Linked DNA regions of Homo sapiens. The protein of the gene in region 4 interacts with the protein of the main gene of each other region in a pairwise test. Each region holds a gene or a part of one and is shown on either strand. Other genes may lie near its edges.

Region 1 (3,500 bases), on a different chromosome or scaffold from region 4:
ACTATAAATATGTGCAGTTTGTTGTAAGTCAATTATACCTCAATGAAACTCATTAAAATTACCATATTTTGGGGATCTATTTCTAGAATCTCTATTGTGTTTTATTGATCTCTGTGTCTATCCTCTAGTCAATACTATACTGTTATGATCACTGTGGTTTTATTTTATAGTATGTCTTTTTTTTTTCTTTTTTTTTTTTTTTTTGTGATGGAGTCTTGCTCTGTTGCCCAGGCTGGAGTGCAGTGGCACCATCTCGGCTCACTGCAAGCTCTGCCTCCCAGGTTCACGCCATTTTCCTGCCTCAGCCTCCTGAGTAGCTGGGACCACAGGCGCCCACCACCACGCCTGGCTAATTTTTTGGATTTTTAGTAGAGACGGGGTCTCTACTGTGGTCTCGATCTCCTGTCCTCGTGATCCTCCCGCCTCAGCCTCCCAAAGTGTCGGGATTACAGGTATGAGCCACTGTGCCCGGCCACTACTTTATAGTATGTCTTAAATTGGGTAGTATGAGTCTTTAACCTTGATCTTTCTTCAAAATTGTTTTGGGTATTCCAGTCCTTTACTTTTACATATATTTTATAATGAACTTGCCTATATCTACAAAGACTCATGCTGGGATTTGTTTGGAATTGCCTTAAATCTACAGATCAGTTGGGGGCTCTGGCATTTTAACTCTTTTTTTTCTTTCTTTCTTTTTTTTTTTTTTTAGTATTTATTGATCATTCTTGGGTGTTTCTCGGAGAGGGGGATGTGGCACGGTCATAGGATAATAGTGGAGAGAAGGTCAGCAGATAAACACGTGAACAAAGGTCTCTGGTTTTCCTAGGCAGAGCTCCCTGCAGCCTTCCGCAGTGTTTGTGTCCCTGGGTACTTCAGACTAGGGAGTGGTGACGACTCTTAATGAGCATGCTGCCTTCAAGCATCTGTTTAACAAAGCACATCTTGCACCGCCCTTAATCCATTTAACCCTGAGTTGACACAGCACGTTTCAGAGAGCACAGGGTTGGGGGTAAGGTTATAGATTAACAGCATCCCAAGGCAGAAGAATTTTTCTTAGTACAGAACAAAATGGAGTCTTCTATGTCTACTTCTTTCTACACAGACACAGTAACCATCTGATCTCTCTTTCTTTTCCCCACATTTCCCCCTTTTCTTTTCGACAAAACCGCCATCGTCATCATGGCCCGTTCTTGATGGTCACTGTCTCTTCGGAGCTGTTGGGTACACCTCCCAGATGCGGCGGCGGGCAGAGGCGCTCCTCACCTCCCCGACGAGGGGCGGGCAGGCAGAGACGCTCCTCACTTCCCAGACGGGGCGGCCGGGCAGAGGCGCTCCCCACTTCCCAGACGGCGCGGCCGGGCAGAGGCGCTCCTCACTTCCCATTCGGGGCGGCCGGGCAGAGGCGCTCCTCACCTCCCAGACGATGGGTGGCCGGGCAGAGGCGCTCCTCACTTCCCAGACGATGGGCAGCCGGGCAGAGGCACTCCTCACCTACCCGATGGGGCAGCCGGGCAGAGGCGCTCCCCACTTCCCAGACAGGGTGGCGGCCGGGCAGAGACGCTCCTCACCTCCCAGATGCGGTGGCGGCCAGGCAGAGGCGCTCCTCACCTCCCAGATGGAGCGGCCAGGCAGAAGCGCTCCTCACTTCCCAGACGGGGCAGCCAGGCAGAGGCGCTCCCCACTTCCCAGACGGGGTGGCCGGGCAGAGGCGCTCCTCACTTCCCATTCAGGGCAGCCGGGCAGAGGCACTCCCCACTTCCTAGATGGGGTGGCGGCTGGGCAGAGACGCTCCTCACATCCCAGACGGGGTGGCGGCCGGGCAGAGGCGCTCCTCACCTCCCAGACGGGGCGGCCGGGCAGAGGCGCTCCTCACTTCCCAGACAGGGCGGCCGGCCAGGGGCGCTCCTCACATCCCAGATGATGGGCGGCCAGGCAGAGACACTCCTCACTTCCTAGACAGGGTGGCAGCCAGGCAGAGGCGCTCCACACTTCCCAGATGGGGCAGCCGGGCAGAGGGGCTCCTCACATCCCAGACGATGGGCGGCCAGGCAGAGACGCTGCTCACTTCCTAGACGGGGTGGCGGGCAGGCAGAGGCTGTAATCTTAGCACTTTGGGAGGCCAAGGCAGGCGGCTGGGAGGTGGAGGTTGTAGCGAGCCGAGATCACGCCACTGCACTCCAGCCTGAGCAACATTGAGCGTTGAGTGAGCGAGACTCCGTCTGCAATCCCAGCACCTCGGGAGGCCGAGGTGGGCGGATCACCCAAGGCCAGGAGCTGGAGACCAGATCGGTCAACATGGCGAAACCCCATCTCCACCAAAAATACAAAAACCAGTCAGGAGTGGCGGCGCGTGCCTGGAATCCCAGGCACTCGGCAGGCTAAGGCAGGAGAATCACAGGAGCCCGAGGCAGGGAGGTTGCAGTGAGCCGAGATCATGGCAGTACAGTCCAGGCTCGGCAAGAGAGGGAGACTGTAGAAAGAAAGAAAGAAAGAAAGGGGAGGGGGGAGGGAAGGAGAGGGAGGGGGAGGGGAGGAGGGGGAGGGGGAGAGGGGGAGGGGGAGGGAGAGAGGGGAAGAGGGAGAGGGGAAGAGGGAGGGGGGAGGGGGAGGAGGGGGAGGGCTATTCCAAGGATTCTTGAGAGCTATGCTGTATCCCAAATTTATGAAAATAAAAATGGAATTTTCTGCTGAAATCCTTATAAGTTACAAAGGACCACATTTTAAGTCATGGAAAAACAGGTTAGGAACAAACTGAATAATAAAAGACCTTGAGAAAATCATGGTAAATATGGCATTTGAAGACAGAAAAATATTGAAGTACTCGTTTGTAAAAACAAACATAAAAAATGAGATGAAGTATAAGTTTTATTTATATATACATAAGATAATTACTTTAAATAACTAGATTTATTACCTGATTCCAATGATGGCCGGTCTGTCTCATCTTCATTCTTTAACTGCTGTGTTAATGCCTCCTTATAATTTTCTACTAGTCCAAATTCATTATTTTTTTGGCCATTGTGATTAACCTGGCCTTGTGTCTCTATTTGCTCATGCTCCATTTTATGTTTCAGGTGGCAGCCATCACTGTCTTTCTCCATTTTTTGGTTTTTTTTCTCTCTTTCAAGTTTTCCTTCATTCTAACAAAAAATAAAATACATTATCTTTACTATGATGGTTTTATCTAAGATAGTTTTAAGGGAGAGGAAATCAAATACCTTAACAGGATTCTGTAACTTCAAGGACACTGTGAGACTTCTATTTTAAAAATGATTTCATGAATACATCATTAAAAGATGCTAAATGTCAAACATTCAGTAAAACAGAAAGTATAACAAAAGCAAACAAATATTACCAGTAATTCCACAATCTAGAGATGACTACTATTCATCTGTATTATTCCGTATATAATCTGTTCAGTATATAATCACTAAGAGATGATTTTCTCTGCCAACCCCCACACATACATACCTATATCATGTACAGACATACATCACCCA
Region 2 (2,810 bases), on a different chromosome or scaffold from region 4:
TCCAGGATATATTAAATGGGGGAAAAATAAACATGCAGAGACAGTCTATATAGTATGCTGCCATACTTCAGAAAAGGGAAAAATAACTTTTTGCTCATATATGCACTTTTTAAAAAATCACTCAATGTATTATCACACTGGCTCTTCTTCTTCCTTCTTCCTCCTTTCTTTCTTCTTCTTCTTCCTTCTTTCTTCTTTTCTTCTTTCTCCAAGAAAAGCACACTGGTCTTTAAGAAAAAAATAAAAGAAAAAAATCTGCTGGGCATGGTGGCTCACACCTGTAATCTCAGCACTTTGGGAGGCCAAGGCACTTTGGTAGGCTGTGGTGGGAGGACTGCCTGAGCTCAGGAGTTGGGGGCTGCCACTGCACTCCAGCCTGGCTGACAGAGACCCCATCTATAATTTAAAAAAAAAAAAAAATAGGCCAGGCGCGGTGGCTCACGCCTGTAATCCCAGCACTTTGGGAGGCCAAGGCAGGCGGATCATCAGGTCAGGAGATTGAGACCATCTCGGGTGAAACCCCATCTCTACTAAAAATACAAAAAAATAGCCAGGCATGGTGGCGGGCGCCCGTAGTCTCAGCTACTCAGGAGGCTGAGGCAGGAGAATTGCTTGAACCCGGGAGGCGGAGGTTGCAGTGAGCTGAGATCGCACCACTGCACTCCAGCCTGGGTGACAGAGAGAGACTCTGTCTCAAAAATAAAAAAATAATAATAATTTAAAAAATCACTCAGTGCACAAGAAACCATAATATTGATGCCTGGGGTGGGGGTGGGGGAGAATAGGGTGGGAATCGGTAAAGGGAGGAAGATATTTTACTATACTCATTGAATTTGCTCAAACATTTTAAAGTTTGTACAGCCAGGTGTGGTGGCCCGCATCTGTAATCCCAGCTACTCAGGAGTCTGAGGTGAGAGAATCACTCAAGGCCAGAAGTTTGAGCCCAGACTGGCAACATAGCAAGACCATGTCTCTAAAAAAATAAAAATAAATCGAAAAGTAAATAAAAGAGGGAAAGGAATAACATACTCAACTTCATAAAGATGTGGGGAAGTCAAATCAATCACTTATAGTAATTAGCGCTGTGCCTAATACATGTTAAGTGCATAAACTTTGGCTGTATTTGGAAGTACCAGCCATACCCACCAACTGCATCTGCCTCCCCTATCTACTCCCCCCACCGTCAGCCTATTGCCAATCAGCTGACGCGCTTCCCTCGAGAGTAGCCTGACCCTTTTCTTGCCCCCATAGGCTGATCTACTGGCTGACCTTTGCCGTGGGCCGCTCCTTCCGAGGCTTCGGCTACGGCCTGACGTTTCTGCCACTGCTGTCGATGCTGATGTGGAACCTCTACTACATGTTCGTGGTGGAGCCGGAGCGCATGCTCACTGCCACCGAGAGCCGCCTGGACTACCCGGACCACGCCCGCTCGGCCTCCGACTACAGGCCCCGCCCCTGGGGCTGAGCCTCTCCGCCCTCGCCCTCGGAGTAGGGGGTAGCGGCTTGGGTCTGACACATCTTTGAACCTTGTGGCCAGGCCTGGACTTCGCCCCCAGGCCTAGGACCGCGGTGGGTGGAACCCTGCTACTGCCCCAACAGGGACTCCAATCAATCGGAGTTCTCCCCTTGCCGGAGCTGCCCTTCACCTTTGGGGCCCGAGACAGTCATAAGGGATGGACTTAGTTTTCTTGCAGGGAAAAAGGTGGACAGCCGTGTTTCTTAAGGATGCTGAGGGCATGGGGCCAGGACCAGGGGAGAGGCACAGCTCCTTCCTGAGCAGCCTCTCACCACTGCCACAAGGCTCCCTAATGCTGGTCTCTGCTCCACTCCCCGGCTTCCCGTGAGGCAGGAGGCAGAGCCACAGCCAAGGCCCTGACCACTTCTGTGCCAGTTGTCTAAGCAGAGCGCCTCAGGGACGCTGGAAATGCCTTAAGGATAGAGGCTGGGCATCACATCAAATGGGACTGTGGTGTTTGGTGAAAACCTTCCTGAGGATCTGGATTCAGGACCCTCCATGACTGGCCTATTTACTGTTTACAGCTGGCCAGTGCAGAGCTGCTGCTCTTTTACCTTTTTAGGCCCCTGTAACTTCCCACCTTTAAACTGCCCAGAAGGCATGCCTCTCCCACAGGAAGAGGGGAGCAGACAGGGAAATCTGCCTACCAAGAGGGGTGTGTGTGTCTTTGTGCCCACACGTGGTGGCTGGGGAGTGCCTGGATGGTGCGGTGGTTGATGTTAACCTAGTGTGTGTGTGTGTGTGTGTGTGTGTGTGTGTGTGTGTGTGTGTGTAACAATAAATTACTACCAGTCTTTGCTGGCTCTTTTTTCCTGTTTGTCCCCCAGTCTCGAGTGTCCCTTCCCTGTTTAATTCAGATGACGATAGAAACCTCCCAGCTCTACCTGGTGGAGCAGGGCTGGCAGGTTCCTTGGTTCCACAGCAAGGAAATGGAGCCTCAAACAGAAACTTGCCTTCCAAGCCCATCTCTTAGCCCTTCCATTCCCTGGAACCAGCCCAAGACCAGCCCAACAACACTCACACATCAAGAGACTGGAGCCCTGTGAAAAAAAATAAATCTATTTTCTTGCCTTCCAGGGCAGCCAACCAGTCAGAATGCCTCTCATTTAGGCCTGCAAGTCCCATCCAAGGGAAATGTGTGGAGATGCAAGAAGGCAACACCAAGGGGACCTTATCAATAGCCCTGTCCCCTGCCCGCCTCCAAAGTCCCCCAACAAAGTATGAAGGAAGCCCCACCTGGGGGTCTCCAGGAAGTCGAGGCTGGCCTCTGAGGTTCCACAGAAAAGCAAGATGG
Region 3 (3,500 bases), on a different chromosome or scaffold from region 4:
GGACTGTGATCGGGCTCCAGCTACTTCACCACCCCGGGCCAGCCTGCTCCAGGGGTCCCTTCCTGCTGAGAGCAGGCGAGAGGCAGTCAGGCTCATGAAGCAGCCACCGGGTTTGGCTCACTGGAAGGAATCACACTGGAAACATGTTTAGCCCGCAGTGCAGAGTGGCTCCAGAAGGGAGAGGTTCTGGAAGACGCCCCAACCTGCCGGGCTGCTCCCAGAGATGCACAGTGAGGGGCAGGCACCCAGGGCCGTTCCAGGACTCAAGATGGGGATGGAGATGGCGTGAGGAATGGAGGACAGGGCTAGATGGGCTGACCGGGGGGAACAGTGTTACGAAAAGGAGGCGGGTACCCTGGGCTCCCGTGACAAAGTGCGGCAGGGCTACCCCCTGCAGCCCCCATAGCCCCCACCACCTTGAGACCACGTTCTGGTCACTGCCTCGGAGCCCCGATGTGTTGGGGCCAGGGAGCGCTCCTGCCCGGGTGTGGGGTGTGAGCCTCAGCCTCTGTCCGCCCGGCAGCGCGCGTGCCTCCCTTGGTCTGGCCTCCCTCGGCCCGGTCCTGGCACTGGCCGTGCTAGCTGGCCGTGCTTCTCCGCGGGATACAGCCTTCCATCTCCAGCGCCTCGGGCCAGCCTTCGTACTTGTTGCTGTGCTTACTGTTCTTCACGTGCTGTGGGGAGGGGAGCAGAAAGTCATGACTTTGGCCCTCAGGGACAGGGGACAGGAGTGGACCAGGACCCAGGCTGTCAGTCAACTGTGCTGTGTTGGCCAACGGTGTACTCTCAGGGCACTTGGCCCCTCCACCCATCCCAGGGAAACATGGCATCAGCTGCACTGGCCCACCCCTCATAGCTGGACTGGGGACGGTCCCCTGCTGGGGCGTGAGCAGCTGGGGAGGCTCGTCGCATGCAGGCAGAAGGGGCGACAGGCTGCCCCGGTGGGGGTGATGCCAGGCACCCCCCATACCTGCTCAAAGGGGCTCTTGTTCTGCACACCCTTGGCCCCGACAAACACCCAGCTGTCCCGGAAGGCCAGCTCCTTGGCGTTCCTGCTGCCCAGCTCACTGAAGAGCTTTCTGGTCTCTTCATTCATCCTGCAGCATGGGAGGAAGGGGTGTCAGCTGTTGCTGCAGAAGGGCAAGGCTGAGGCTGGCCTCCCCAAGCACCTACTTGGTGGCTGGGTCGTCGTAGGATGCCACGAACACCAGGGTGCCTTCGTGCAGTGGCCGAATAAACTTCAACAGGTCGTTGACATCTGGGGGGGCAGGTGCCACGGAACAGGGGTCATCAGGCACCACTGAGCACCCTCCCACAAGCCCGTTCTCCAAACAAGGAAACAGAAGTAGGGATTGGGCCTGGGACATGCCCCGCCAAGGGACAGGCTGGTGTAGGAAGCTGAGGCATCCCCGTGACCTCCCACAGCCTCCAGACCAAGCTGGCGATGCCCCTGTCCTTTCTGAACCCACGGAGGTGACTGAGAAGCTCCAAGTACAGACAGAGAGAGCAGTGTCTCAGGGGAAGCTGCCCAGGTCATTTTGCTGCAGTCAAAATGCAAGACGCTGCGCTGCAACTCACCTCCGGCCCACATGTCAAAGGCCCGGGCCTCGATGAGCTCGCCGCTGACCCCTGTGTCAGGAGGGAGGGGCCCTGCTGGGTAAGCCAGGCCAGCCTCAGGGCACGGCAGGCGGGTAGCACCGGGGGTGGGGGGCAGCCCTTCTGGAAGCTTTCAAACAGTCCCCCAATATTCATCCATTTGTTCAGGCAGCTGCATCCCACCCCAAGCCGTGGTGCCTCTGTCTGGCATTTGAGGCCCTCCGGGGGCTCTCCATGAAGCACCCTCAACCTCCCAGAACCTTCCCTAGTTCTTTATTGCCATCATGCTTTTTTGTTCATTGGGTCACTCCTCTGTGGAGCCTTGCGCTTGCACAGACTCCTTCCCAGGCCTCCCTGGGAGATCTTGAATGGGAGGGGAAGGGAGGGCAAACACCCAGAGGCCTCCTGGGGAGGGAGCAGGGAAGGAGGGCGGCAGGCCACGCTCAGCCAGGGGCCTCACCGTTCACCAGGGCGATGTTCAGCCCGCGGCCCACGTTGTCCTTGACGCTGCTCATCAGCCTAGTTGGGGGGGGGTGGGGGGGACGGGGAGATCCCACATGGGCACGTCTGCTCCACTCTCCCTTGCAGACCCGGCCCTGGATCCCCCACTCCCTCCCTGATCCCCAGTCACCCCAGGGAGCTCACATCTTGTCCTCGAGGCAGATCTTGGGCCCAATGACGTTGGCGGCCCCGCTGACCACGCGGAAGGCCAGGTGCTCCTCAGGACACGGCTGGGGCAGGCCACACTTGTACTTCCTGGCCCGTGGCGCTGGGCAGGGATAGCAGGTGTTATCCATGGGCCTGGCCCTGAGGTCACCTGAGATCTGAAGGGGAGGTCAGGACCAGCACACATGGTAGAACAAGTGACCGCAGAGCAGGACACAAGTAGGGGGATGTGGCTCAGGCCGAGGCTGGGGACACTTCCATACTCTGTGTCCTACTGGTGAGGCCACAGGGACCCAAGACAGAAGGATTTTCTGTTACTGGTGGGAGAAAAGAAAGGATGCTGAGGGCTGGCCTGGGCCACTGCACAGCCAGGAACAAAGCAGGGGTGAAGTAAGTCAGGCTGGGGGTCTAGCTGCATGGATGAGGCCAACCTGAGCAAAGGCAGTGTGGCAGGGGGTAGTGTGGCAGGGGGTGCAGCCTGTCTCCCGATTTTGATGGGGGTTGGTTGGGAGGACTGGAGCAGGATGGCTTCTATTATGGGTTGAATTCTGTCCCCTCAAGGTATGCTGAAGTTCTAATCTGTGGTACTTCAGAATGTGATGTTTGCAAATAGGGCCTTTGCAGTTCAGATGGGGTCATACTGGAGTAGGTTGGGTCCTTAATGCAACATGACTGATGTCCTTATAAGAACAGAAGTGACAAAGACACACAGAGGGAAGACAGCCATGGTACAGTGGAGGAAGAGACAGGAGTGACACAGCCAGAGGCCAAGGTATGCCTGGGGCCACTGGAACCTGGGGAGGTCAGGAAGGACCCTCCTGTAGAACTTTCAGGGTGAGTAACGCCCTGCTGACACTTTGATTTCAGACTTCTGGCTTTCAGAATGGGGAGAGAATCCATTTCTGTTGTTTAAGCCACCCAGTTGAAATGGCAGTTCCAGGAAATGGATACAGGTTTTGGCACCAGGAAGTGTGGTGCTTAGGTAACAAATACCTAAAAATGTGGAAATGGCTTTGGAACTGGGTAGTCAGTAGAGGCTTGTCTTAGTCCATTTGCTGCTGCCATAACAGAATACCACAGACTGGGTAATTTATAAAGACAACAGATTCATTTGGCTCATGGTTCTGGAGGCTGGGAAGTCCAAAAGCATGGCGCCGGCATCTGGTGAGGGTCATCCCGTGGCAGAAAGGTGGAAGGTGGAAGCAAGCATATGAGACGCAGGAAAAAAGGGGGCTGAA
Region 4 (3,500 bases):
TCAATGGGTCTGTAATGAATGTAACTGGGATTCCAGGAGAAGGGAAAAAAGATGGGGAAAAGCAAAATATGAAGCAAGTATGGCTGAGAATTTTTCAGTGCTGAGTAAACACATTAGTTTTAAAACATATATTACCTTCAAACAGATGACCTCTCAAAAACAACAGTAAAAAATAGAAAACAGTGGAATAATATATTTGAGTGGCTGAGAGGAAAAACAACAAACCTCTAATTCTATACTTACTGGAAATATCAGTCTTAAGAAAAAATACCTGTAATGTACAGTTGGAAAGGAAGAAAGAAATAAACAACTAAAATCATAAATATGTGGGCAAATTGAAATGAATACTAACTGCATAAATCTGTGCGCCACCTTGTCTGTCTAATTTTTATATCTTTTTTTTTTTTTTGTAGAGATGGGGTTTCACCATTTTGGCCAGGCTGGTATCGAACTCCAGAGATCAAGTGATCCGCCTGCCTCGGCCTCCCAAAGTGCTGGGATTATAGGCGTGAGTCCCCGCGCCCGGCCCAAGGGCTAGTTTTTTCTTTTTTCTTTTTCTTTTTTTTTTTTTTTAATACTGAGTCTGGCTCAGTCACCCAGGCTGGAGTGCAGTGGTGCGATCTCGGCTCACTGCAACCTCCGTCTCCCGGGTTGAAGCAATTCTGGTGCCTCAACCTCTGAGTAGCTGGGATTACAGGCGTCCACCACCACACCCAGCTGGTGACGCATAGCTGTAGTCCCAGCTACTCAGGAGGCTGAGGTGGGAGAATCGCTTGAACCCAGGAGGCAGAGGTTGCAGTAGGCCAAGATTGCCCCACTGCACTCCAGCCTGGGCGATAAAATAAAAATAAATAAATAAAAATAAATACATTAATATAATAGCATATAAATTGAGGAGAGAGTCAACAGAGTAAAGGAATGCTCTATGATTTTTATATTGGTCAGGAAGAACATAAAAATGTCAGTTAATGTTAGTCTTTGATGAGTGAAGTATACATGTGTAATTCCTAGAACAACTACTAAAAGATTAGTAAAAGAGATGTAAAAGACATGAAAGAGCACATTCCAAATGAACAGAAAAAAAAAACAGAATAAGAAAAAGTGTTAAATCGTCCAAAAAGGAGGAAAGAAAGGGGAAAAAAAGTAACAATTCTAAATCTTTATGTGCCTGATAACACGGCTTCAACACATCGAATAAAATGTTTACAGAACTGTAAGTAGAATCGCAGCGGAAGATTTCAACACAATTCTTTTCATATGGAAAGAGGAAGAAGCACGTAAAAATCACAGAACTACAAGCACGTGGAGCATGTTCTCTGATCACAGTGGAACTAAGCCTGAAACCTAAAACAAAGAGATAACCAGAAACACATATGTTTGTAAATTAAGAAATGCATTTCTAAATAACTCCTGGGTCAAAGAGCAGCTCACAGTGGAAATCAGAAAGTATTTTGAACTGAAAGACAATGAAAATACATTAAAATTATAGCCTTAAGTCTACATACTTGAGATAAAGGAAGGCTTAAATTCATGAGGCAAGCACCCAATACGAGAAGTTTGAGATGGAATAGCAAATTTAAAACAAATAAATTAGGTCAGGAGATCGAGACCATCCTGGCTAACACGGTGAAACCCCGTCTCTACTAAATATACAAAAAATTAGCCGGGCATGGTGGTGAGCGCCTGTAGTCCCAGCTACTCAGGAGGCTGAGGCAGGAGAATGGCGTGAACCCGGGAGGCGGAGCTGGCAGTGAGCCGAGATCGCCATTGCACTCCAGCCTGGGTGACAGAGTGAGACTCTGTCTCAAAAAATAAAACAAAATAAAATAAAAATAAATTAGATGGAAGGAAGTAATACAGATTAGAATAAAAGTTAATGAAAGAAATAATAAAAAGACAGAGTCAACAAAGTCAAAAGTTACTTTCTTTGAAAAACCAAATTGAACGGTACTCCTACTGAGACAGATGAAAAAACACACACAGGTGTGCACACACACACTAATAATAAGAACTTAAAAGAGACATATTTCATATTCTGCAGATATTAAAAAGCAAATGAATGACAACAGCAGTGACAGAAACCACATAATAAGGAATAATGTATCATCAGGCAAATGTGAAATACGTTTAAAATATCTTTCTAAAATGCAAAATGTGAAAATGTGGTTGCTTTTTAACTTAATAATAAGTCTCACACATTAACTATGTACAAGACACTGTGCTAAATTATTTTACTTTTATACCCATCTCACAATTCTAAGAGGAAAGCACTCTTTCTTTTTTTCTTTTTTTTTTTTTTTTTTTTTGAGTTGGAGTCTCACTGGAGTCTCACTCTGTCATCCAGGCTGGAGTGCAATGGTGCAATCTCAGCTCACTGCAACCTCTGTCTCCCAGGTCCAAGCAATTCTCCTGCCTCAGCCTCCTGAGTAGCTGGGATTTCAGGCAATGCCACCACACCCGGCTAAATTTTTAGTGGAGGTGGGGTTTCACCATGTTGGTCAGGCTGGTCTCAAACTCCTGACCTCAAGTGATCCGCCCACCTGGGCCTCCCAAAGTGCTGGGATTACGGGTGTGAGCCACCACACCTGGCCAAGAGCACCTTTCTATTCTTGTTTATGGAAAATGGGACTCAGAGAGGAAAAGTGACTTATCCCCAGTGTCACACAATCAGTGAGTGGGGTAATCATTAACCCAAACTGAGGCCTGGCTTCAAAACCCATGCTCTTAACCGGGGAGTTACACTGACTGACAGTGACTGCTCCTTGCCTGGACAACTTCAAACATGTCGATGCCTCCCTAGTAAGAAAACCAGAAGAATATCTGTGTTGATGCTACTAGATGGCCTCACTCTTTTTCACTCTAAGGTCCTCCTCATCTTTCTCCTCTTGTCCTAGTTCACTCTTTCTCTTCTTCTATATCTTTCTCCCTCTCTTTCTCATATATGGTGAGCAAATCAGGTTCTTAGCTGCTCGACAGAGGTTTTCATAGATGAGATGGAAACCTCTCTGAGAAAAAGGATGAAGCATTGTCTCTCCAAACACTTACAAGTTAGAAGAGAATGTTGATCCATCCTCCCAGAGCCATGGTACCTCAGTCTGGGGCCGAGAAAGGCCTATCCAAAATGAATTATCAGGTTGGGAAGACACTTGTTTTACTATAAATCCCTGTAATGAAACATATACAAATATATAATAAAGAGAGAGAGAGAGAGAGAAAGAAACTATTATCATGGACGCTGAGAAAAAGACAACTGATTGAATCACTTTGGTAAAGAATGCAAGGCCGGGCGCGGTGGCTCACGCCTGTAATCCCAGCACTTTGGGAGGCCGAGGCGGGTAGATCATGAGGTCAGGAGATCGAGACCATCCTGGCTAACAAGGTGAAACCCCGTCTCTACTAAAAATACAAAAAATTAGCCGGGCGCGGTGGCGGGCGCCTGTGGTCCCAGCTACTCGGGAGGCTGAGGCAGGAGAATGGCATGAACCCGGGAAGCGGAGCTT
Region 5 (3,500 bases), 9.5 Mb from region 4:
TAAAATGAATGCCAGCAATGATACGTGGAACAGGATGGAGGAATTAGGATTGTTTTGTTATCATAAGGTACTCACACGATCCATGAAATGGTATAGTGTTATTTGAAAGTGCACTTGGATTTGTTGTACTTGTAAACTGCAAACTCCAGGGCAATAACTAAAAAAAGTTAAAAAAAAGTACAACTGATACACTATGAATGGAGATAAAACAGGAACATATAAAATGCTCAGTTAAAACCACCAAAGGCAAAAAAAAAAGTGGAAGACAAAAATAGGAGCAAAGAATGAGGGTAACAAATAGAAAAACAGTAACAAATGTGGTAGATCCAACTATATCAGTAATCACTTTGAATGTCAATGGTCTAAGTGCATAATTGAAAGGCAGAAATTGTCAGGATGGACACAAAAAGAAGACTCAACTGTATGTTGTCTACAAGAAACTCACATTAACCATAAAGATACATATAGATCAGCTGAGTGTGGTATCTCACCCCTGTAACCCAGCACTTTAGGAGGCTGAAATGGGAAAATCACTTGAAGCCAGGAGTAAGACTAGCCTGGGCAATATAGTGAGACCCCATCTCTACAAAGAATAAGAAAATAGCTGGGTGTGGTGGTTTGTGCCTGTAGTCCTAGCTGCTTGGGAGGCTGAAGTGGGAGGATTGCTTGTGCCAAGGCATTTCAGGCTGCAGTGAGCCAAGATGGTGCCACTGCACTCCAGCCTGGGTGATGGGTGATAGAGTAAGACCTTGTATCAAACAAAAAAAGACACATACGGATTAAAAGTAAATGGATGGGGTCAGGCACGGTGGCTCACGCCTGTAATCCCACACTTTGGGAGGCCGAGGTGGGCAGATCACCTGTCAGGAGTTCGAGACCAGCCTGACCAACATGGAGAAACCCCGTCTCTACTAAAAATATAAAAATTAGCCGGGCATGGTGGCACATGCGTATAATCCCAGCTACTCCGGACCTTGAGGCAGGATAATTGCTTGAACCCGGGAGGCAGAGGTTGCGGTGAGCCGAGATCATGCCATTGCACTCCAGCTTAGGCAACAAGAGTGAAACTCCGTCTCAAAAAAAAAAAAAAAAAAGAATTATACACCACACCAACTGGGGTTTAGTCCAGGTATGCAGGACTGGTTCAACATTTGAAAATCAATTAATGCTAGGTGCAGTGGCTCACGCCTTTAACCCTAGCACTTTGGGAGGCCGAGGTGGGTGGATCACCTGAGGTTGGGAGTTCAAGACAAGCCTGACCAACATGGAGAAACCTGTCTCTACTAAAAATACAAAATTAGTCGGGCGTGGTGACACCCGCCTGTAATCTCAGCTGCTCGGGAGGCTGAGGCAGGGGAATCACTTGAACCTGGGAGGTGGAGGTTGCAGTGAACTGAGATCAACTATTGCACTCCAGCCTGGGCAACAAGATCCAAACTCCATTTCAAAAAAAAAAAAAGAGAATAAAATAAAAACAAAAGAAAATCAATTAATGTAATTAATCACACCAACTGACTAAAAAAGAAAAATCACATGATCATATTAATAGATGTAGAAAAAGTATTTGGCAAAATTCAACACCCATTCATGATAAAAACTCTCAGTACACTAGATAATTTCCTCAATTTGATAAAGAATATCTACAAAAAGCCTATAACTAACATCATACTTAATGATAAGAAAGTAGAAGCACTCCCACTAAGATTAGAAACAGGCAAGGATGTCTCCTGTCACCACTGCTTCATACATTGAATTTGCATTCAGTATGAACAAGTCTTAGCAGTTTCCCAGTCTTTGCTAGGAAGTCCTAGTAAATGCAATGTAGTTCCTTCAGAAAAAGGAAATGAAGGGACTACAGATTGGGAGTGAAGAAATAAAACTATCTCTGTTTGCAGATGACATGATTGTCTATGTAGAAAATCTAAATGAACTGACCAAAAATCTGCTGGAACTAATAAGCAATTATAGCAAGGTTGCAGGATACAAGGTTAATACATAAAATGCAATCACTTTCCTATGAAACAGCACTGAACAAGTAGAATCTGAAACTTAAAACACTACCATTTACATTAGCACCTAAAAAAGTGAAATGCCTATGTATAAATCTAACAAAATATGTACAATATCTATTATGAGGAAAACTACAAAACTGATTAAATAAATCAAGGAACTAAATAAATGAAGGGGACAAGCGCGGTGGCTCACGTCTGTAATCTCAGCACTTTGGGAGGCTGAGGCGGGTGGATCACTTGAGGTCAGGAGTTCGAGACCAGCCTGGTCAACATGGTGAAACCCTGTCACTACTAAAAATACAAAAATTAGCTGGGCATGGTGGCACGCACCTGTAATCCCAGCTACTCAGGAGGCTGAGGCAGGAGAATTGCTTCAACCTGGGAAGCGGAGTTTGCAGTGAGCTGAGATTGTGCCACTGTACTCCAGCCTGGGTGACAGAGCAAGACTCCATCTTAATAAATAAATAAATAAATTTATAAATAAATATAAAATAAATAGATAGATAGATATTCCATGTTTATGGATAAGAGGACTCACTATAGATTCAAACAATCCCAATCAAAATCAGTTGTGAATATCAACAAACTAATTGTATAGTTAGTTTATATAGAGAAGCAAAAGACCCGCAGGGCGTAGTGGCTCGCGCCTGTAATCCCAGCACTTCGGGAGGCTGAGGTGGGTGGATCATGAGGTCAAGAGATCGAGACCATCCTGGCCAACATGGTGAAACCCCATCTCTACTAAAAATACAAAAAATTAGCTGGGCGTGGTGGTGGGCACCTGTTGTCCCAGCTACTTGGGAAGCTGAGGCAGGAGAATCACTTGAACCCAGGAGGCGGAGGTTGCAGTGAGCCAAGATTACGTCACTGCACTCCAGCCTGGAGACAGAGTGAGACTCTGTCTAAAAATAAAATAAAATAAAATAAACCCAAAATAGGTGACAAAATACTGAAGGAAAAGAACAAAGTCAGAGGACTGACACTACCCGACTTGAAGAATTACTGTAAAGCGGCCAGGCATGGTGGCTCACACCTGTAATCCCAGCACTTTGGGAGGTAGGGTCTGGTGGATCACAAGTTCAGGAGTTCGAGACCAGCCTGGCCAAGATGGTGAAACCCCATCTCTACTAAAAATACAAAAATTAGCCAGATGTGGTGGCGGGCCCCTGTAATCCCAGCTACTCGGGAGGCTGAGGCAGGAGAATCGCTTGAACTTGGGAGGTGGAGGTTGCAGTGAGCCGAGATTGCGCCACTGCACTGTAGCCTGGGTGACAGAGCAAGACTCTGTCTCAAAAAAAAAAAAAAATTACTGTAAAGCTACAATAATTAAGACAATGTGTTTTGGACAAAGAATAGACAAATAGATCAATGGAACAGAATAATGAACCCAGAAATAGACCCAACTGATCTTTGATAAAGGAACAAAGACAATACGATGTAGCAGAGATAGTCTTTTCAACGAATGGTGCCAGAATAACCGGGCATCCA
Region 6 (3,477 bases), on a different chromosome or scaffold from region 4:
GCTCGGGGCTCTCACCCAGTCTCGCTGGATTTCCTTCAGTTCCTTGATGTCTGGGCTTCTCTTGCCTCAGGGCTTCCATACATGTCGTCCCCCCGAACTGGAATGCCCTTCCGTCCTTCCCCTACCCGGCTAGGGGACTGCCCATCTTTCAGGTAGGTCTCAGCTCAGTCCTGCCACCTGACTGGGCTGACCCCTTCTCTGTGTGCTCCCATGGCATGATGGGCCTGCCTCAGAGGAGCCTTCTCAGTCCCCGCCTTTCAGTCCATTTGTGCGACTATCTCTAGGACAGGACCCTGCCGTTGATGACCCTGCGATCTAGCTGGGATCAGAACTGTGGTTCAGAGGCGTCCACTGGGCTGCACTGACTGGACACAGCTTCAGAGCCAGCTTTGAGGAGAGGCTCTTCCACCTCTGGGCCAAAGGAGTCAGTGCTGGGGTTGGTGTGTATGTGTGTTGGAGGGGGGCAGGCCAGAAACTGAGACAGGAGGAGAGGAGCCAAATCAGGTAGTCACTGTATTTTATTGGAAAACATTGATATATATTTTTCTTCACAGCTTGAACTGAACACAATATTGCCCGGTTTAAAAAAAACAAAACCAAAACATTCCGAAAATGTCCACAGCCTCACGCCTACCTGCCCTTACCCTCAGCTCTTGGCTGGGTCTCCCACTATGCCCCATCCCTCCTTCCCTCAGAGGCTGGGTGCCAGAGGGTGGATGAGAAGAGATTCTCAAAGCTGGGCAGGTCCCAGGAAAAGCCACTTGATCGACCTGGGCAGTGAGGGGAAGCAGGGGGTGGGGGGTGGGGTGGGGAGGTGGTGGGGGGAGCCAGATGAAATGAACAGAAAAGGGGAAAAAACCCAGACGACTGAACTGCCCACATTGACTTACTTGTCCCAGAGGCGAAAGTCAGAAGCAAGGGCACGGATCATGCTCTCCGCTGGGGGAGTATGGGGGCAGGCAGGTGGGCGAGGGAAGAGGCAGGGAAGAGGGCACGGAGCACAGATGTGAGGAAGCGGCGCCAAGTCACCACGGAGAAGCGGGAGGTGCTGGCGGACCAGGACGCAGAGGCTGCTGTAGCTGCCGTCCCCTGGGCAGCTGGCCGACAAGACTGTTTTATTGCAGGTGCGTTCTCTTGAGAGCGTGGTGGGGCCCATCTTCCCTCTCCCCACCCTTTAGCTAGCCCAGCATGGTTCTGAACAAAATGAAAGTCTTAAGGGCCATAGAGGGGAAAGAAAAAAAAAGAGAACCAGCACATTACAAAGCGACCATCCCCACATCCATTCCTAGGACGGGCCCTCAGGGCGGTGGGTGCATCGTGAGGAGGGAGCGGCATGGGATGTTAGCACCAGGTATTTACAGAACAGCTCGAGAGCGCTTCAGGAACGCGGGCAAGTCCAATTTGCAGAGTGGCCAAATGAGCAGTCCCCACCCAGCCAAACCTCAGAAAGCCAATCAGATGGTTTCAGAACAGCAGCCAGTGGGATGTGAGTGTTGCCCACTGTCAGTCCCCTTCTGTGAGTTGGCCCCCTCGACCCCCTCCTGGGCCACATCCAGTCAACGCCACAATTCCTCAACGCCCCCTCAGTCCTTCTGGAATGCCTCTCTTGGCACCCCTGCCCCAACAGGCTGCTGGGATCTGCACGTGGAATCACAGGGCTGGTTGCATGCAACGGCAAAGGGCATGCTCTTCTGCCTGGGGGAGGGCCTCTTGTCCCTCCCAGCAGGTCCCGGGACAGGGCTGGCAGCCACCCCAGCACCCAAAATAAGATGACAAACAAGAGGAAACAAACCAAAATGGAGGAGAGCCATCCGGGCTGGAGGAGGGCAGAGGCTCCCCAAGGGGATCTGGGGAGGGCTTCAACTTATGAATGCATCAGGCCTTGGAAGACATGGATGGAAGAGGCGAGGGCAAAAGGAAGAGATGAGGGGCATGGAGAGAGACTCAGGGAAGAAGGAGAAAGAGCAATCATGCAGCTTGGGACAAATCTTTTGTTGCTTTATCAGATTCTCAGTCAATCAATTGGTGTTTGCTAGAACCGGGGTACGCAGGGGAGTGTTGAAGAGAGAGTGCGCGCGCGAGAAGAGAGAGATCAAGAGAACGGGCATCGCCAGCTGCCCGGGGGGCCTTCACTTTGCAGTCATCATCTGTACAAACTCTGTGGAGTGAAGCAGAGAGAGAGGAGGTCAGGCGGGCAGGCTAAGTGGCGAGCGGCCCTCCCCAACAAGAGGGATCTGGGGGCTTGTTCCTGAAGCTGCGATTCTCTTCTTGTTCCAGAGATCAAGCCTGGCCTTGACTCACCTTCATAATTGACCTGGCCATCTCCATCGATGTCAGCCTCCCTGATCATCTCATCCACCTCCTCATCGGTCAGCTTCTCCCCCAGGTTCGTCATTACGTGACGCAGCTCTGCGGCGCTGATGTAGCCATTCCCATCCTGGGGGTTGGGGATAAAGCCTTTCACTGGGCACTTCTCCCGGTGGGGAGAGAGGCAGTGAGAGGGGTGGCTGTCATCACCATCCCTCAGCAGTGAGCACAGTGAGGGAGGCTGCCTGAGGTGGCAGAGCAGGTTGGCAATGAGGCTGGCACCGGGACCCGGACCTCCTGGAAGTGGTAGCTCCGTGGCTCCAGTTCCGCCTGTCTGCCTGAAGGCTGGCGTCAGTCTCAGAGCCGCCCCTGGAGAGGGCTGCTTACCTTGTCAAAGACACGGAACGCCTCTCGGATCTCCTCCTCACTGTCTGTGTCCTTCATCTTTCTGGCCATCATGGTCAGGAACTCCGGGAAGTCAATGGTCCCGTTCCCTGGAAGGTGGGGAAAGGATGGAGAATGCTCTTGGCCTGGGCCCTGAGAGACACGGGCTCATCCATCACCCTGAGAGAGGCTCCCTGCAGTCACTCGGGGTGACCAGGAGCAGGGCTGCCCACGCGCTCTGTGGGGCTCACCATCTGCATCCACCTCATTGATCATATCCTGCAGCTCTGCTTCAGTGGGGTTCTGTCCCAGGGATCTCATCACTGTCCCCAACTCCTTGGTGGTGATAGTGCCATCTCCATCCTTGTCAAAGAGGGAGAAGGCCTCCTTGAACTCTGGGGGAAGAAGGGGGAGGAGTCAGAGGTCACAAGGTCCACAGGAGAATCCTTACCTCTGGATGCTGGATGCCTTCCCTGGAGGAAGGCCAAGGGCATCAGTCCCACCTAAAGAAACTGAGACAGACTTCAAGTCCCACGCAACCAGCTCTCTCTCCTCAGTGCTCAGGGCAAAGCCCTTCCAACCTTCATTCAACAGTTATTGAACATCAACACTGTGCTAGGTGAAGCTATTTTTCTGGCCAGCCAGTGAAGACAGTGGGGAAAATGGTCTGACAGCTGTCCTTAGATGATTCTACATTTCTGTTTGGTCCCTGGCTTTGACTTCTCCCTTGAAATGATGAAATGAACCAAAGTCATGGAGTGAATGAGAGCCGAAAGGATTCTTTGT
Region 7 (3,500 bases), on a different chromosome or scaffold from region 4:
CTCCAGTTTAAGAGTTGACCCATACAGACTGGGCGCAGTGGCTTACGCCTATAATCCCAACACTTTGGGAGGCCGAGGCAGGTGGATCACCTAAAGTCGGGAGTTAGAGACCAGCTTGACCAATATGGAGAAACCCTGTCTCTACTAAAAATTCAGAATTAGCCGGACATGGTGGCGCATGACTGTAATCCCAGCTACTCGGGAGGCTGAGGCAGGAGAATGGCTTGAACCCGGGAGGCGGAGGCTGTGGTGAGCTGAGATCATGCCATTGCACTCCAGCCTGGGCAACAAGAGTGAAACTCCATCTCCAAAACAACAACAAGAAGAAAAAAACAAAACAAAAAACCACCACCAAAATGTTGAACCATAATGGAAAAAAGATTAACCAAATGATTTAAGGAAGAACCAATGTGATTAGAAACCCACGCCTATTGGTAGAGTGGCACTGTTACACCAAGCTCTGTTCTGGGAACACTACAGAAATGTAGAGCTCAGTGCTCTACAGGCACTGTGCTTACAGGCAAAACCTAAGCCTTAAGGTACTCCTCAGGATAGTACCTGATAGGGAACATGCAAAAGGCTGTAGCATCTCTCACATTAGACCTCAATGGCTGCAGCCAGAGCCCTCACCTAAGTTGGATCTCTCTACGGAGTATCTTGTGCAGACATGAGTTAAGGAAGCATCCTTTGGCATTTGGGGAGGAAAGAGCCTAGAAATTATTTTCCATTAGTTAGCGACTCTCAGTCAGAATCTGAAAGTACATAATAATAGCTAGCATGAGGAGGATTTTGGAAGATGGATGACACCTGATTTCATCCAGACATAAAGAAAAAATAAAATGCTATAAAGGGGAATTACAATAATGACAAAAGTCATTATTAGCAATATAAAAATGGCTACAAGGGGGATAGCAATGCCCTCTTTCACCTGTCCGTGGGACCCTAGTCATACATAATATACTATTGGTCTGGGCAGACTTGGCTGATCTGAGGTACCAATCTCATTTTCCTATGATCTTTCTGTGCCTATAAGTGATCTACCAAGAAACATCTTGCCTGGGATTTAGGCACCATCTCCCCGACTTGGGGCACCACATCTGCTGTAAGGACTCACCGACATAAGCAGACACTTGTTTTCCTTGATAGAGCCCATGCAGCCCAGGAAGGCAACTACCATGATAATAGAGCCCACGATGACAAACACATTGCCCAGCGTGAGGGAGGGGAGGTTATGGAAGAGCACTCCGAAGTTGTTGTGGATCAGCAGGTAGATCCCAAAGCCCAAAATGCAGCAGCCACAGATCTGAAAGGAAGAATCCCACAACATCCTGAAGCAAAATGTGGTTCTTGGGTATCTCCTCATATTCTCACTTCCTTGAGATCAGAATCACTTTATTTTTAACTGGCTCAATCAAGAGTCTCATGAACAATTTCTTTACCAAACTTTTCCATGCTTACATTGGAGAGGCAATCTCAGCTTTCTCATGTGGAGACCTACTCACAACTCTTCCTACCCATCTCCAGATACCAAGGAAAGATCACTTCTGTGAGCCACACAGTATCTTCACCATATATAGGTCTAACTTCTTTTTCCTTATCTTTTCAGTCGCTCACACATGGCTTTCTCTGTAGAAACCATGACCATGTAGAGAAGATGCCCTGCTTGAGGAAGCTCATCTTGCTAGGCAGAAAACTAGAGAAGCCAAACTTATAATAATCTTCTCATATACACAAGTACCAACCCATCCTATATCTGAAATTCAATTGCTGAATTTTATACAGTGAAACCTCCCTGGAAAGGGTGACTTTCCTTTCAATCACTTATTGTTTCAAGGAATCTAGAAAAAAAGACAAGAAAAACAGAGGCACTCAATATCCAGAGCACAGTCTCAGGTTTCTCACCTATATATGTTAGCTACGAGTAGTAGTAAACTAAAGCCCTCAGAGAGAAACAGCACCTCCATTAATAACTGCACTGGTACCTTTCAATTTTGCAGGTTTATTCTGTGGCAGGAAGAGGGGAAAAATTATTACTCTTTTGTTTCTAGGATGGTTGTGCTGGACATGACCCAAACACGCATGCATTTTACCCCACACCAGCCTCTTCAGTAGAGGAATGAGGAGAGCTTAGCTGGGTAAAGGTGAGCTAAACCGTGCTCAGAAGAGATACACTTACCCAAAAGAGCAAGTTGAAGAAAAACAGGACATACTTCAGCAGTTTCAAGCTACTCATGCCCATGCCGTGATATTCTTGCCCTAAGGAATAAGGAAGAAGAAAGTAAGTTACCTCACTCTGTAAGGTAGCCAGAGATCAGAGTGCACAAATGTTCAGGGATCTCTAGCATTACCTTGGGTTTGAGCTGTGGCTCTCCTCTGGAAAGTTTCCCCAAACTCTGCGCTTTCCTAGTTCTAAACTGAAATACCAACTGGCTCATCTTAGACATTCAGTTTTTGCCCAATTCGGCAAGCCAACAATGCTTAACATTGAATTAAGTATTGTAGAAGAAAATAGAGCCATTCTTAGAAGAGGATGAGTCACAGTGACAGAGACCAGGCCAGTGCTTTAGCTCTAACTGCAGCATTAGCAACTAGTGCCTGGGCACTTAAGCCCTTGAAGTCAGGGATGGACTGGTCAATCAGCCATCAAGAAAGCCAACAGCTTGATCAGCCAGTTTCTTAAATACTCTGTGATTTATGTACATGCTACATTTGATCAGTAAACTTCTCCACATGAAAGTAGGGGGAACATATCCACGCCTCATTTATTCTTTTATTGCAGAAACATTTATGTTTTCTGTTCTAGATGTTGTGGAAGATGCAACCATGACTAAGCAGTAGCTATCCTCCAGAAGACAACAGTCTTACAGCAAAGATAAAACAAGCCAACAAATATGCAATGGGGAAGTAAAAAGAGATAGCAATGTAAGCTTTATTTTTTTCAACTAGAATATCATTTTCTTAGTGAGGACATCAATGTCCAATGTCTGGTTCTCAATTCTAGAAATCCAGATACAGAATTTTGACTTTTCCTTTTCGCTTTCCTTTCCTTTCTCTTTCTCTTTCTCTCTTTCTTTCTTTCTTCTTTCAGGGTCTCAATCTGTCACCCAGGCTGGAGTGCAGTGGCACAATCTCAATTCACTGCAACCTTCACCTCCCAGGCTCAAGTGATCCTCCCACCTCAGCCTCCCAGGTAGCTGAGACTAAAGGCATGCACCATCATGCCCGGATAATTTTTGTATTTTTAGTAGAAACGAAGTTTCACCATGTTGCCTAGTCTGGCCTCAAACTTCTGACCTCAGGTGATCCGCCTGCCTCGGCCTCCCAAAGTGCTGGGATTACAGGCATGAGCTACCGCACCTGGCCAGAATTTTGAATTTTCTGTCAGAGGTAATGATATTCTATAAAGTGACTCATTTTTAAAACCGTGCACAGGACTGATATATCAAGCAGAATGTTGGGGCAGTGATTTTTTTCCATTAAAATTATGCCTTTTCCAGTGC

What was found.
Region 1: the proteins of CLEC7A (region 4) and ARL13B interact in binary tests that used the Homo sapiens proteins (3 or more experiments, as listed by UniProt).
Region 2: the proteins of CLEC7A (region 4) and TMEM79 interact in binary tests that used the Homo sapiens proteins (3 or more experiments, as listed by UniProt).
Region 3: the proteins of CLEC7A (region 4) and FAM3A interact in a two-hybrid assay, tested with the Homo sapiens proteins (one large-scale study listed by BioGRID).
Region 5: the proteins of CLEC7A (region 4) and NINJ2 interact in binary tests that used the Homo sapiens proteins (3 or more experiments, as listed by UniProt).
Region 6: the proteins of CLEC7A (region 4) and CALM3 interact in a two-hybrid assay, tested with the Homo sapiens proteins (one large-scale study listed by BioGRID).
Region 7: the proteins of CLEC7A (region 4) and CD53 interact in binary tests that used the Homo sapiens proteins (3 or more experiments, as listed by UniProt).

What each region holds. Positions count from the first base shown.
Region 1 is NC_000003.12:94,042,655-94,046,154, reverse strand, and holds part of ARL13B (ADP-ribosylation factor-like protein 13B), read right to left. Parts: intron 3,141-3,500; coding exon 2,915-3,140; intron 1-2,914. UniProt on the Homo sapiens protein: Cilium-specific protein required to control the microtubule-based, ciliary axoneme structure. May act by maintaining the association between IFT subcomplexes A and B. Binds GTP but is not able to hydrolyze fit; the GTPase activity remains unclear.
Region 2 is NC_000001.11:156,290,134-156,292,943, forward strand, and holds the end of TMEM79 (transmembrane protein 79), read left to right. Parts: intron 1-1,251; coding exon 1,252-1,465; 3' UTR 1,466-2,310; downstream 2,311-2,810.
Region 3 is NC_000023.11:154,506,233-154,509,732, forward strand, and holds part of FAM3A (protein FAM3A isoform 1 precursor), read right to left. Parts: intron 2,421-3,500; exon of another isoform or gene 2,394-2,420; coding exon of another isoform or gene 2,366-2,393; coding exon 2,242-2,365; intron 2,116-2,241; coding exon 2,057-2,115; intron 1,654-2,056; coding exon of another isoform or gene 1,630-1,653; coding exon 1,579-1,629; intron 1,259-1,578; coding exon 1,174-1,258; intron 1,098-1,173; coding exon 971-1,097; intron 675-970; coding exon 579-674; 3' UTR 1-578. UniProt on the Homo sapiens protein: May act as a defensin against invading fungal microorganisms.
Region 4 is NC_000012.12:10,120,200-10,123,699, forward strand, and holds part of CLEC7A (C-type lectin domain family 7 member A), read right to left. Parts: intron 3,165-3,500; coding exon 3,046-3,164; intron 1-3,045.
Region 5 is NC_000012.12:653,446-656,945, forward strand, and holds part of NINJ2 (ninjurin-2), read right to left. Parts: intron 1-3,500. UniProt on the Homo sapiens protein: Its role in unclear. In contrast to NINJ1 paralog, does not mediate plasma membrane rupture (cytolysis) downstream of necroptotic and pyroptotic programmed cell death.
Region 6 is NC_000019.10:46,607,806-46,611,282, reverse strand, and holds the end of CALM3 (calmodulin-3), read right to left. Parts: intron 3,460-3,477; exon of another isoform or gene 3,087-3,459; coding exon 2,943-3,086; exon of another isoform or gene 2,802-2,942; coding exon 2,695-2,801; exon of another isoform or gene 2,438-2,694; coding exon 2,302-2,437; exon of another isoform or gene 2,278-2,301; intron 2,186-2,277; exon of another isoform or gene 2,159-2,185; coding exon 2,130-2,158; 3' UTR 501-2,129; downstream 1-500. UniProt on the Homo sapiens protein: Calmodulin acts as part of a calcium signal transduction pathway by mediating the control of a large number of enzymes, ion channels, aquaporins and other proteins through calcium-binding. Calcium-binding is required for the activation of calmodulin.
Region 7 is NC_000001.11:110,890,148-110,893,647, reverse strand, and holds part of CD53 (leukocyte surface antigen CD53), read right to left. Parts: intron 2,257-3,500; 5' UTR 2,240-2,256; coding exon 2,177-2,239; intron 1,304-2,176; coding exon 1,115-1,303; intron 1-1,114. UniProt on the Homo sapiens protein: Structural component of specialized membrane microdomains known as tetraspanin-enriched microdomains (TERMs), which act as platforms for receptor clustering and signaling.